3 linked regions of the Homo sapiens genome follow. The protein of the gene in region 3 interacts with the protein of the main gene of each other region in a pairwise test. Each region holds a gene or a part of one and is shown on either strand. Other genes may lie near its edges. The genes, in order: USH1C, CCDC172 and PCDHB12.

Region 1 (3,753 bases), on a different chromosome or scaffold from region 3:
ACACCAACTAGATGCTAGGTCTTACAGAGGATGATGATGATGGTGGTGGTGGTGGTCGTGGTGGTATTGGCCCCAGTAGACTTCTAGGCAAGGGTATAGATTTGAGATGCATTCATTCATTCATTCATTCATTCATTCACTCAACAAATTTGTTTGGCATTGATTCCATGCCATGCACTGTTCTAGGCATATAGTGGTAAATAAAGCAAACACAGCTATCTTCACACAGGAGGAAGCTGGGGGCACAGATAGGAAGATGAAGAGGAAAGAGCTAAGGATGGAGCCTTAAGGAATGCTGGTTAAGGAACAGGCAAAGACTGATTGTCTCCAAGGAAGCTTGAAACAAAAATTCATGAGAGAGGAGAACCAGGTCTCAATGCTATTCTCAAAACAAAGCAGGGGGCATTTTAAGGTGGAGGGAGTCTGTGGGGGTAATGGCCAATGTAAAATAAGGATTGGTGTGGCAGGTGAACAGCATTCCCCTGGATAAGGACATTCATTCACCTCTGCCAGGATTCTAAATACAAAATAAACAGCCATATGACATTCTTTTCCAATGTAGAGAATCAATGAAGTAAGTCGGAGGGGAATGCATTTTGTGTGGCCTTTTCTGGACCATTCAAAAATCCCACAAGTCTTTCCATTTTATCGCTGACTTAATAGTTAATGCTAAGGTGAGAAAACAGATCATATTTTAAGGTTCTTCTCCAAGAGGGATTTACATCTTAAACTAGGCAACAAAAATAGTGTGCTTGTAAAACTTCAGCTATTGGGGAGAGGGACGCAGAGGGGTGTTTAGGTGCCCCAGAGTTACAATTGTAAGTGGTTACCTGATGTAAGCTGCTGTCCATCTCCTTGCCCCTGCCCTTGACAGGGCACAAAGGGCTCAGGTGCCTCCCTGGGTTAAGTTCAGGCACAAGCCCCATACTTAGCCTCTGATTTACACATTTTTATCACCCCTCTCCTAGCCCCTCTTTCCTTTCATCTCTTTCCAGGCCTGGTTCATCATTGTCTTTGATGAATCTTTCCTTTCATTCCTTTCCAGGCCTGGTTCATCATTGTCTTTGCACCAAGCACTAGACCTAGGAGTTAAGCAAATGCTGACCAAATTGAATTAAATGAACCAGAGGGTCTGGGCCCTGGGTGAAGGTCAGCCATAGATCAAAATGTCACTGCCAGGCTCTGCCAGGCTTCGATGGATATGTGAGTGTGTTGGGTTTGGGTTTTGTTTTGTCTTGTTTTGTTGGGGGTGGAGGTGTTAGGGAAGGTGGGAGGGGAAATCAGTTGAGGGGGGCACTCTCACACACACTGATTCAGACCCCTGCGGCCCACAGTAAAACCCAGCCCTGTCCCCAAGGAATTCACAGAACAAGGATTGATTTCTCCCTGGTGGAAAAGTGCAGGAGGAAGCCAGGACTGAAGGTACGCTGGAGGTGAGGGCGTAGCAAGGGCTGACAGTCCAGGAGGGCCATGAACCTCGACAAGAGTATCCAGAGAAGGCCGGGCGCGGTGGCCCGCGCCTGTAATCCCAGCACTTTGGGAGGCCGAGGTGGGCAGATCACGAGGTCAGGAGATCGAGACCTTCCTGGCGAACACGGTGAAACCCCGTCTCTACTAAAAATACAAAAAAAAAAAATTAGCCGGGCGTGGTGGCGGGCGCCTGTAGTCCCAGCTACTCGGGAGGCTGAGGCAGGAGAATGGCGTGAACCCGGGAGGCGGAGCTTGCAGTGAGCCAAGATCATGCCACTGCACTGTAGCCTGGGCGACAGAGCGAGACTCCGTCTCGGGGGGGAAAAAAAAAGAATATCCAGAGAAAACGGACTAGATTGCCCCGCCCCCCGCCCGTGTAAATAGTTTCCGTATCTCTCTATTCCGGTCCCCACAAAAAAGTCCCAAACCTCCTCCCTACGTCTCCACGATCTTCTTCCTCAAACGCATGTGTTCAGGTACCACTTCCAGAGAAATACCAGCTTGAAGCCCAGCTACTGCCACCTCAGGCCCATAGGCACACTGGGGCCCATTTGCTCCCAGGCTTCAGTGGGAGGCGACGACTCAGCACCTTCGACTCCAGCCTCGCAGCGGCCCCGCCCCACAGAGGCCTGGCCCCGCCCCTCCGCGCTCAGGCCCCGCCCCCAGCTCCGAGGGCGGCTGGCCCGGTCGCGGTCGCGGCTCTTTCCAGCTCCTGGCAGCCGGGCACCCGAAGGAACGGGTCGTGCAACGACGCAGCTGGACCTGGCCCAGCCATGGACCGAAAAGTGGCCCGAGAATTCCGGCATAAGGTCAGAGCTGCAGGGCGCCCCAGGCTTCTGGGACTCCGGAGTCCTGGGCGCGGTGGGTAGGGGGTGGACACCCCGGCACTGCCCCTCCCTTTTCCGGCCCCACCTGATGGCTCTGGTTGGGCTGGGACACCCGAGGGTCGTCTGGCTGGCAGCAGGGATCCCCAGTAAAGTGAGGGAGGGAATGCGGGGACTCCCGGCTCAAGGACTGCTAAACGAGTCGATCTTCTGCCAGCCTTTCTCCCTCTGCCTTCCAGGGGCAGGGACGTCTCTGGGGTTTGAATTCCTTCCAGTCTTGGCCGCTTTTCTGAGGTGCCCCCTTTGTGGGCAAGCCCCTCTCCTTCCTAGTGCCCCCAGCTCAGGGCTGTTGAGGCATGTGGAGACAGTCTGGGGCAGTATCTGAGAGGTGAGGGTTGGGAGAAGGGAAACTAGACGTCTCTCTCTCTGCCTTTTGACCTCAGAACATGAGTTAGAAGCATTTCAGCCCTGCCTGCCTAAGGGCGTTTCTTAGGGTCTGAGAAGTAGCTGAGGAGCTGGTGCTGACCCGGGTGCGGTGGGGAGGAAGGGAGGAGGTACTGAGGGCGTCGGAGCTGGGCTCTGGCCGGCCAGATCCTTCAGGCAGAGCCGGGTCCACCCTGGTGTGTCCCAGTGAGGGGCCTCACTGGTGGTCTGGGATTCTCAAGGACCATCTCTGGAAGTGGCCAGGTTTCACACAGGGCATTTCGAGAATGATTCACAAAGCTGTGCAGAATCTGCTGAGGCCCTGAGACCAGAGAGGGCCATCAAAGAGATCCAGCCTACTTCCCCACCAAGTCTTAGGATGCCTCTGAGTCTGGGGATGAAGCCGCTTGGGGGGGGTGGGTGGTATCTGGAGCTCCCCACAGGCCCTGCCTGAGGGGCAGGTAACTATTGATAACTTAACTATTGATAACTGTGTGACCCAAGGCTCTCCCAAAGACCCCAGGGGCAGTGTCTTTAGACCAAGCCAAACCTCTTCCTGGTTTGAGAGCTGAGCTCAGGTAGGGCAGGTCAGGGTGCTTAACTCCTTCCTTCCCATAAAGAGGCCCATAGGAGCCCAAGGAGCTAGCCAGTGTAGGGGCCACAGGGGCTTGGGGCCAAGGGCCCGGGGTCAGTTATTCATTTAATAAGCATGTTTTGAGCATCCTCTCAGCCATACCCAGTCTGTGCCCTTTGCTGGTGGTGTAGGTGGGAGGCAGACCCTACCCTGGTAATTACCCATGTCTGAGTGCTGCGTGTTGAGGCCAAGCTTTTGTAGGGGCACAAAGGGACAGCTCAAACTGGCAGAAGGCTCCTGAAAACAAGGTCTTGGGCATTTCTGGTCCTGCTCCCAGGGGTGGGTGATAGCTGGAAGTTCAGCAGGAATTTAGGGGCTGGCGAATACCAAGGGGAGCTTGAGAGAGCATTCACTGTTACATCCTGTTGCAAAGAGACATGTCGGAAGAAATTTCAGCCACTA
Region 2 (3,753 bases), on a different chromosome or scaffold from region 3:
TTTTAAACATTAATTTAATAACAATAATCCTATTGCATTTTAAATACCACATTTGTATTGAAAAATGACTTTCCAAAACAAAAACAAATTAGAAAAAGGAGTTGCATATAGATTTTTTACAAATCTCATTAACATCTGGCTTAATGGAAGACAGCTGAGACCAGGTTTGGTGGTTCACGCCTGTAATTTCAGAACTTTGAGAGACCAAAGTGGGAGGATCACCTGAGGCCAGGAGTTCAAAACTAGCCTGGGCAAAATAGCAAGACCCTGTCTCTAGAAAACAATATATTTTTTAAATTAGCCAGGTAGGGTGGCAGAGGCCTGTAGTCCCAGCTACTCAGGAAGCTGAAGCAGAAGGATCACTTGAGGCCAGGAGTTTGAGGTTGCAGTGAACTGTTGTTGTGCCACTGAGCTCCAATCTGGGTAACAGAGTGAGACTCTGTCTCTTAAAAATAAATAAATAAAAACAAAAAATTAAAAAAGAAGATAGCTGGACTCTCATATCTGCTTCTACTCAATCTTTTGTAATACGTTTTTCAGTTGGAGAATACGGAGTGCACAGATATGTAGTTGGAAATGATTGTGCATATTCTTCTTTGATACTATATCAAAATTCACCATGTGGTAGCTCCTTAAAGGTTAGTTGCAATGTGGAATCTGAAGCCGTTTCAATGAACTTTTCATTCTATGTTATAATAAAATCCATTGGTCTACATTGCACTTTGAGTCTACCTTTTATCTATGCACAGTTTTGTAACTTTATGCATTACTTACTGCTTCCCTGAATTATGCAGATCCTCCAAATGTTGATATATTTCATAATATGCTTTGAAAAGTAACATTCTGAAACATCTTGAAACATACTGCTTCAAAAGTAACATTCATATTCATTAATATCACTAACGAACTCACCAGAAAAATCTTTAAGTACCAGGAAGCTGCCAAGCTGCCAAGATAGATAGGAATCCTCCAAAATTCTAATTTTTGTTTGAAAGCTTGCATATTATCATTGGCAAAATAATAAGAAGAATGTCAGATGTTTGCCTTGACATTTTAGGCTTACTTCATTTATTTTTCAGAAAATTTTGCCAAACACCCAAATCTAAATAACTACAACTTGACTGTCAATTATCTAAGTAAAAATGGCGTTTCAGAAAAAGAATAGCTAGCTCATACTGCATCTCAAACAACTGCACACATGCTCTCTCTTGAGACAATCGTGGCACTTCGGAATATAAAAGTACTTTAGATGTACCACCCATGTGATCGTACACAATATTGAAAATGAATATACTCAATGATCAGTTCCAATAAAATTAATATTTTTGACACTTCAATCAAAACATTAAGTAAAACTAGCGGTTTTTGTTTTCTTACTGAGAGTGCATGGCAGTGAAGAATACGAGATGACTACTAGTACAGTTTGGTGCCACCACCTCGATTTGTGTTAAGGTGCTAAGAGTTTTACTCACTGCTGCTTTTGCACTGTCAATGTGTGCATTAACATAGAGAAGATGGCAAATGGTACCTTTGTATAGTATTATCATAAAAATAGCTTGACCTTACAAACTCCCTGAAAGTGTCTTGGGGACCCCTTTGAACTCAGAGATCACACTTTAAGAATAATGCTCTAAGGTGACAACTGAGCAGAGACTTAGGCTAACCAACCATCAAGATTTGCATGGGGCTGTCCTAGTGTTAGCACTAAAAGTCCCACATGATTCTACTGGGAGAGATCTAAATGAAGTGAGCGTGCATGACAGAATAACAGCTAATGGAATCAGCATTTCAAGCAGAGGAAACAGCAAGTGCAAAGGCCCTGGGGTCAAAGAATGATTGGCATATCCAAGAAAAAACAGCCCATTACAAAGGTTCACACCCCCATAAACCTGACTGTCCTCAGGAAGGTGAGCTACTGGACAATGTCTAATACAATACTCAAAGGACACTCAGTGACCTTTTTTGCCTATTTCCAAGTTTTGGATAATTACTCATGACAAACATGATAAGGCTTTCTTTATAGAATTTCATAGAGAAAATGGAAACAAATTTTTTCTTTAAATGAGAACTTCAAAAATTTTGAGTTTACAGTTAGGTTTATATAGTTGAAATTGCTTGATGTCAATCCTGTAATTCAGGAAGGAAGGTGTTATATAATTTATTTGCCAAGTATTCATAGTGTGATTTAGCAGTTGCTCAATGAATGTTTGTTGAATGAATAATTGCCAACTATAAAATTAAATATTGGTAGGATCTAAATTTTTTTGATTAAGTGTAAAGAAAGAAAAAAGCACTCCAATTACAAAACTCCATTTCAATACTATAAATGATAATAATTTGTGATTTTGTTCTTTCTCCAATTAGGTAATACAGTACTAAAGGATATGACTTTGCCTGCTGTTCTGGAGGTTTCCTAACTTTTACCAATTAAAATAAAAGAACACATACATATTGAGGTAAAGAAGTAAATGGGGCCACCTTAAGTTACTTTTTAATTTCAATACAATTTTCCTTTAAAAATTCATGAAATATTCTTTTATTATTGTTATGGTGTTTACACAAGTTAAAATTGGAAACAGAAAAAATAAACAAAATATTCACAAAATAGCCTCAGATTTTCCTCCATTTACTCCCTCTTAAGGGAATATGGCATTATATTGAGTTTTATGTAATATGTTTATAAAAATTAAATGTCAAAATTTTAATTATATGCCATTTTTAAAAATAGAAGAAGCTCTTTTAGATGTTTAAAAGAAACTACCAATGTTCTGTCAGTCCTTAATTTTGGTTTGCCCTGTCATCAATACTATACAACTTTTCCTTAACTATCAGAAGTTTTGGATGTATTGGTAAGCATGAATGCAAATCCAGGGCATGTTCTCATTTTTCTGTTTTCATATTACCAAACCTAACCAGGCATAGTGTAGCTGTCCAATTCATAAAGTACTCATACTATATAACCTGAGACTTTTGCAACCATATATTTTAAAAGACTCATTGAGCCCTGCAAGGCAAATGCTATCATTCAAGTTCTAATTACATGCTATCCGGGTTTTACATAAAAGAAAAAAAATGAATACTGTACTTCCCAAATACATTTATTGACCAGAAACAACATCCAAAATAAATGCCCCCCAAATTTTCTGAATGTATGACTGTACAATAGCTCAAGCACTGCTCTATTCAAATTATGTTCTATTAATAGTTTCTCCTTGTGCTGCTACTGTTTGATAAATGGGTCAATAAATGCCAAGTCAAATATTCAAGTAAATATATTTTCATTGTTATTGGCAGACATATAATTAACTCAGAATAAAAGAAACAAGAAATCAATTTAGGATTAGTTCTTCAGTTCTTCCCATTAGTCATATGCATTATAATTGTGATTCCACTTTTAAAATCTTTATGCACATATACATACCATCTTGACTATAATACAAATCAAACTATTTCAGTTATAAATTAGTATTGTATGAACTGTGACCCTCATATGTTAATTTTATTAGTAAGATACAAATGTATTATTACCCACATATATGAGCTGGTTAAAAAGCAATGCATGCTTATGAACCTATATTAATTAGTAATTTCAACAAATGTTTCTAAACAATGGTAGGCCTTTTCTGTCTTCTTTCTAGTAAAAACAACTGAATCAACATTTTTTAATGTATGTGTATATATCAACAAATTACATTTCCATTTGCAGACAAAACAAAACTTTGCTAACAAAGAAAATATTACAGAGTAACATTA
Region 3 (3,753 bases):
CTCCCTATTTTCAGTTTGACACCTCACACTTGTGCTCAGCTGTGCCTAGATCCCCAAGACTAGAGAAAGTCCCATTAAATTTCTCCAGAGAATAAACTTTCTATTTTCTGGCTGTGAGTTATGTTTCCATCTATGTAGGGTGATGAGAAGAACAGAGAATTCAATTATCCTCTACACATACTTCCAACTAATAACTTTTTTCCATCCTTAACTGACTTCAGTCTTCTTAAACATCTGGTTCCTCCAGATCTTGCGCTTAAAAGAGATTATGTTTCTTGTGAGTATCTTCAATGCAGGAACTTTACTTTAGGGGCACTTTTTGGAACTGCTAAGTTAATTGCTCTTCCACCTGCTTTCTGTCATAGAAAAATGTATGTGTTCACTTGTGTATTCTTAATCTTTGTTAGTTCCTACCATTTTAATTACTTTTCTGCCATTTTAGTGCATATTTTTTTTTAAAAAGAGAGGTTAATTGTGTGTGCTCAATTCATCTACTTTTCAAGTTTTACCCTTCTGTACCAATTACTATTTCAACCATGTATCCAGCTTACATTTTTAAGAATATTAATTGAATTTAACATTTTAAAATGCAGACTTGTTGGATTCTTCTCCCATCCATTCTTAGTGCACTTTAAGACTTTCTATAGTGAATATCACTGATGAGCCCTTAGCATCTGTTGCAAACAGTCTCCCTCATTTTGTACCAATGAGGTACTTTGGCTAGGACTGAAACCTTCCCAAGCTTAAGAGGTGGTCCCAGACAGGATTAAAACACAGTAATGGCCAGAGACAGGTCTTTAGATTCTAGGACTAAAATCTCCAACTATAATTCTATACCTCTTGAAACAATGATTGCTTCAGTGGCAGACACATGATCTTACTTGGTCTAATTAGAGTGAAAGTTAGGTTTTTGTTCTATGTTTAGGGATAGACTCTTACTTTCTCTTCCTGGGCTGAAAGAGAAAACAGATAGCTACAGTTGTGGCTACAATAAATTTTGGGAACCTAAGGCAAGTCAGCTTTAGGAATAAGAGTCTGCTTTAAATTAAACTAACTTGCTCATGCTTGTGTACTTATGAATTTTTTTGTAAATTATGAAAAACTGGAACTAAATGATGGGTTTACATAACATGTTCCACCCCAATCTCTTGCTTCATTTTCTGCCTGTTCACAATTCATTGCTATTAAGGAAATCTACAGAAGTGCCTTTTTATGCTGTTGTGTTGACCTATATATGCCTCATCTCATGGTTAATCCAGTTTCATAACTTCAGAAAGGATTTCTGAGATGACCTTTCCTTTACCTTATCACGTAAGGAAAGCCAAGTAGTAATAGAATTTCATTCAGCTTAACAATCACTTATACCCTGCTTGTTTCAGGCTTACAATTGTCTCAGAAACACTATGAATTCCTGGGAGCCAGGGATCACATCTTGTATCTGTGTTTACCACAACTGAACACATTTGGTTGTGAGAAGAGTGGGGAAAGACACTGAATAAATGCTTTAAAACAAAATCATCATCACAAACTATAAAGAATATAAAACGATTATTATGGAAGATAAAATATATTTTTAATTACTTCAACAGAAGGAATTATTTAAACGCAATATTTATTTGCTTCTGGAGGACATTTATGTAAATAAAATTTAGGTAGTGTTCATCAAACTGTGAAAATCTGTGGAGACGCGTGGTGGCGCTGCAGGATAATATCAAGAAAAAAATTACCCTGGAGGATGTTGTAGACCCTGTTATCCAGTACACGCGGAGAACTGGGAAGACAGAAAGAACAATCCTTTAAGGGAGAACCTAGAAGCCATTCAACAAGGTTAAAATCTTCAGGCTTCCGAGGATTTGGTAGACAGATCAGAGGCACGTTTCCCACAACTGCGAAGAGGCGCTGAGGCAATTCTGCAAGAAGATTTTGGGGTTTTGGAAAAGAAGCTATGGAAAACGGAGGGGCAGGCACTCTGCAGATAAGGCAAGTCCTGCTTTTCTTTGTTTTGCTGGGAATGTCTCAGGCGGGCTCTGAAACTGGGAACTTTTTGGTGATGGAGGAATTGCAGAGCGGGAGCTTTGTAGGAAATTTGGCAAAGACCCTGGGACTCGAGGTGAGTGAGCTGTCTTCGCGGGGGGCTCGGGTGGTTTCTAATGATAACAAAGAGTGTTTGCAGCTGGACACAAACACTGGGGATTTGCTCCTGAGAGAAATGCTAGACAGGGAGGAGCTCTGTGGCTCCAATGAGCCTTGTGTGCTGTATTTCCAAGTGTTAATGAAAAACCCCACGCAGTTTTTACAAATTGAGCTCCAGGTCAGGGATATAAATGATCACTCTCCCGTCTTCTTGGAAAAAGAAATGCTCTTAGAAATCCCAGAGAACAGTCCTGTTGGTGCTGTGTTCTTGCTTGAAAGTGCAAAGGATTTAGATGTAGGAATCAATGCTGTAAAAAGCTACACAATAAATCCGAACTCTCATTTCCACGTTAAAATAAGAGTCAATCCAGACAATAGGAAATACCCTGAGTTAGTTCTGGACAAGGCGCTGGATTATGAAGAGCGCCCGGAGCTCAGTTTCATCCTCACTGCTCTGGATGGCGGGTCCCCTCCCAGGTCTGGAACTGCCTTGGTCAGGGTGGTGGTTGTAGATATTAATGACAACTCCCCTGAGTTTGAGCAGGCTTTTTATGAGGTGAAGATTCTGGAGAATAGCATCCTTGGCTCCCTGGTTGTGACCGTCTCAGCCTGGGATTTAGACTCTGGAACAAACAGTGAACTATCCTATACCTTTTCCCATGCCTCAGAAGATATTCGCAAGACATTTGAAATTAATCAAAAGTCTGGTGACATTACTTTAACAGCACCTTTGGATTTTGAAGCAATTGAGTCATACTCAATAATCATTCAAGCCACAGATGGGGGAGGACTTTTTGGAAAATCTACAGTCAGAATTCAGGTGATGGATGTAAACGACAACGCTCCTGAAATCACTGTGTCATCAATTACCAGTCCAATCCCAGAAAACACTCCAGAGACTGTGGTTATGGTTTTCAGGATACGAGACAGAGACTCTGGGGACAACGGAAAGATGGTTTGTTCTATCCCGGAGGACATCCCATTCGTGCTAAAATCTTCGGTAAATAATTACTACACTTTGGAAACAGAGAGACCGCTGGACAGAGAGAGCAGAGCCGAGTACAACATCACCATCACCGTCACCGACTTGGGGACCCCCAGGCTAAAAACCGAGCACAACATAACCGTGCTGGTCTCCGACGTCAATGACAACGCCCCCGCCTTCACCCAAACTTCCTACGCCCTGTTCGTCCGCGAGAACAACAGCCCCGCCCTGCACATCGGCAGCATCAGCGCCACAGACAGAGACTCGGGCACCAACGCCCAGGTCAACTACTCGCTGCTGCCGTCCCAGGACCCGCACCTGCCCCTCGCCTCCCTGGTCTCCATCAACGCGGACAACGGCCACCTGTTTGCCCTCAGGTCGCTGGACTACGAGGCCCTGCAGGGGTTCCAGTTCCGCGTGGGCGCCACAGACCACGGCTCCCCGGCTTTGAGCAGCGAGGCGCTGGTGCGCGTGCTGGTGCTGGACGCCAACGACAACTCGCCCTTCGTGCTGTACCCGCTGCAGAACGGCTCCGCGCCCTGCACCGAGCTGGTGCCCTGGGCGGCCGAGCCGGGCTACCTGGTGACCAAGGTGGTGGCGGTGGACGGTGACTCGGGCCAGAACGCCTGGCTGTC

Evidence for each region.
Region 1: the proteins of PCDHB12 (region 3) and USH1C interact in binary tests that used the Homo sapiens proteins (3 or more experiments, as listed by UniProt).
Region 2: the proteins of PCDHB12 (region 3) and CCDC172 interact in binary tests that used the Homo sapiens proteins (3 or more experiments, as listed by UniProt).

The regions. Positions count from the first base shown.
Region 1 is NC_000011.10:17,542,798-17,546,550, reverse strand, and holds the start of USH1C (harmonin), read left to right. Parts: upstream 1-2,134; 5' UTR 2,135-2,243; coding exon 2,244-2,279; intron 2,280-3,753. UniProt on the Homo sapiens protein: Anchoring/scaffolding protein that is a part of the functional network formed by USH1C, USH1G, CDH23 and MYO7A that mediates mechanotransduction in cochlear hair cells. Required for normal development and maintenance of cochlear hair cell bundles.
Region 2 is NC_000010.11:116,327,445-116,331,197, reverse strand, and holds part of CCDC172 (coiled-coil domain-containing protein 172), read right to left. Parts: intron 1-3,753.
Region 3 is NC_000005.10:141,206,963-141,210,715, forward strand, and holds the start of PCDHB12 (protocadherin beta-12 precursor), read left to right. Parts: upstream 1-1,756; 5' UTR 1,757-1,945; coding exon 1,946-3,753. UniProt on the Homo sapiens protein: Potential calcium-dependent cell-adhesion protein. May be involved in the establishment and maintenance of specific neuronal connections in the brain.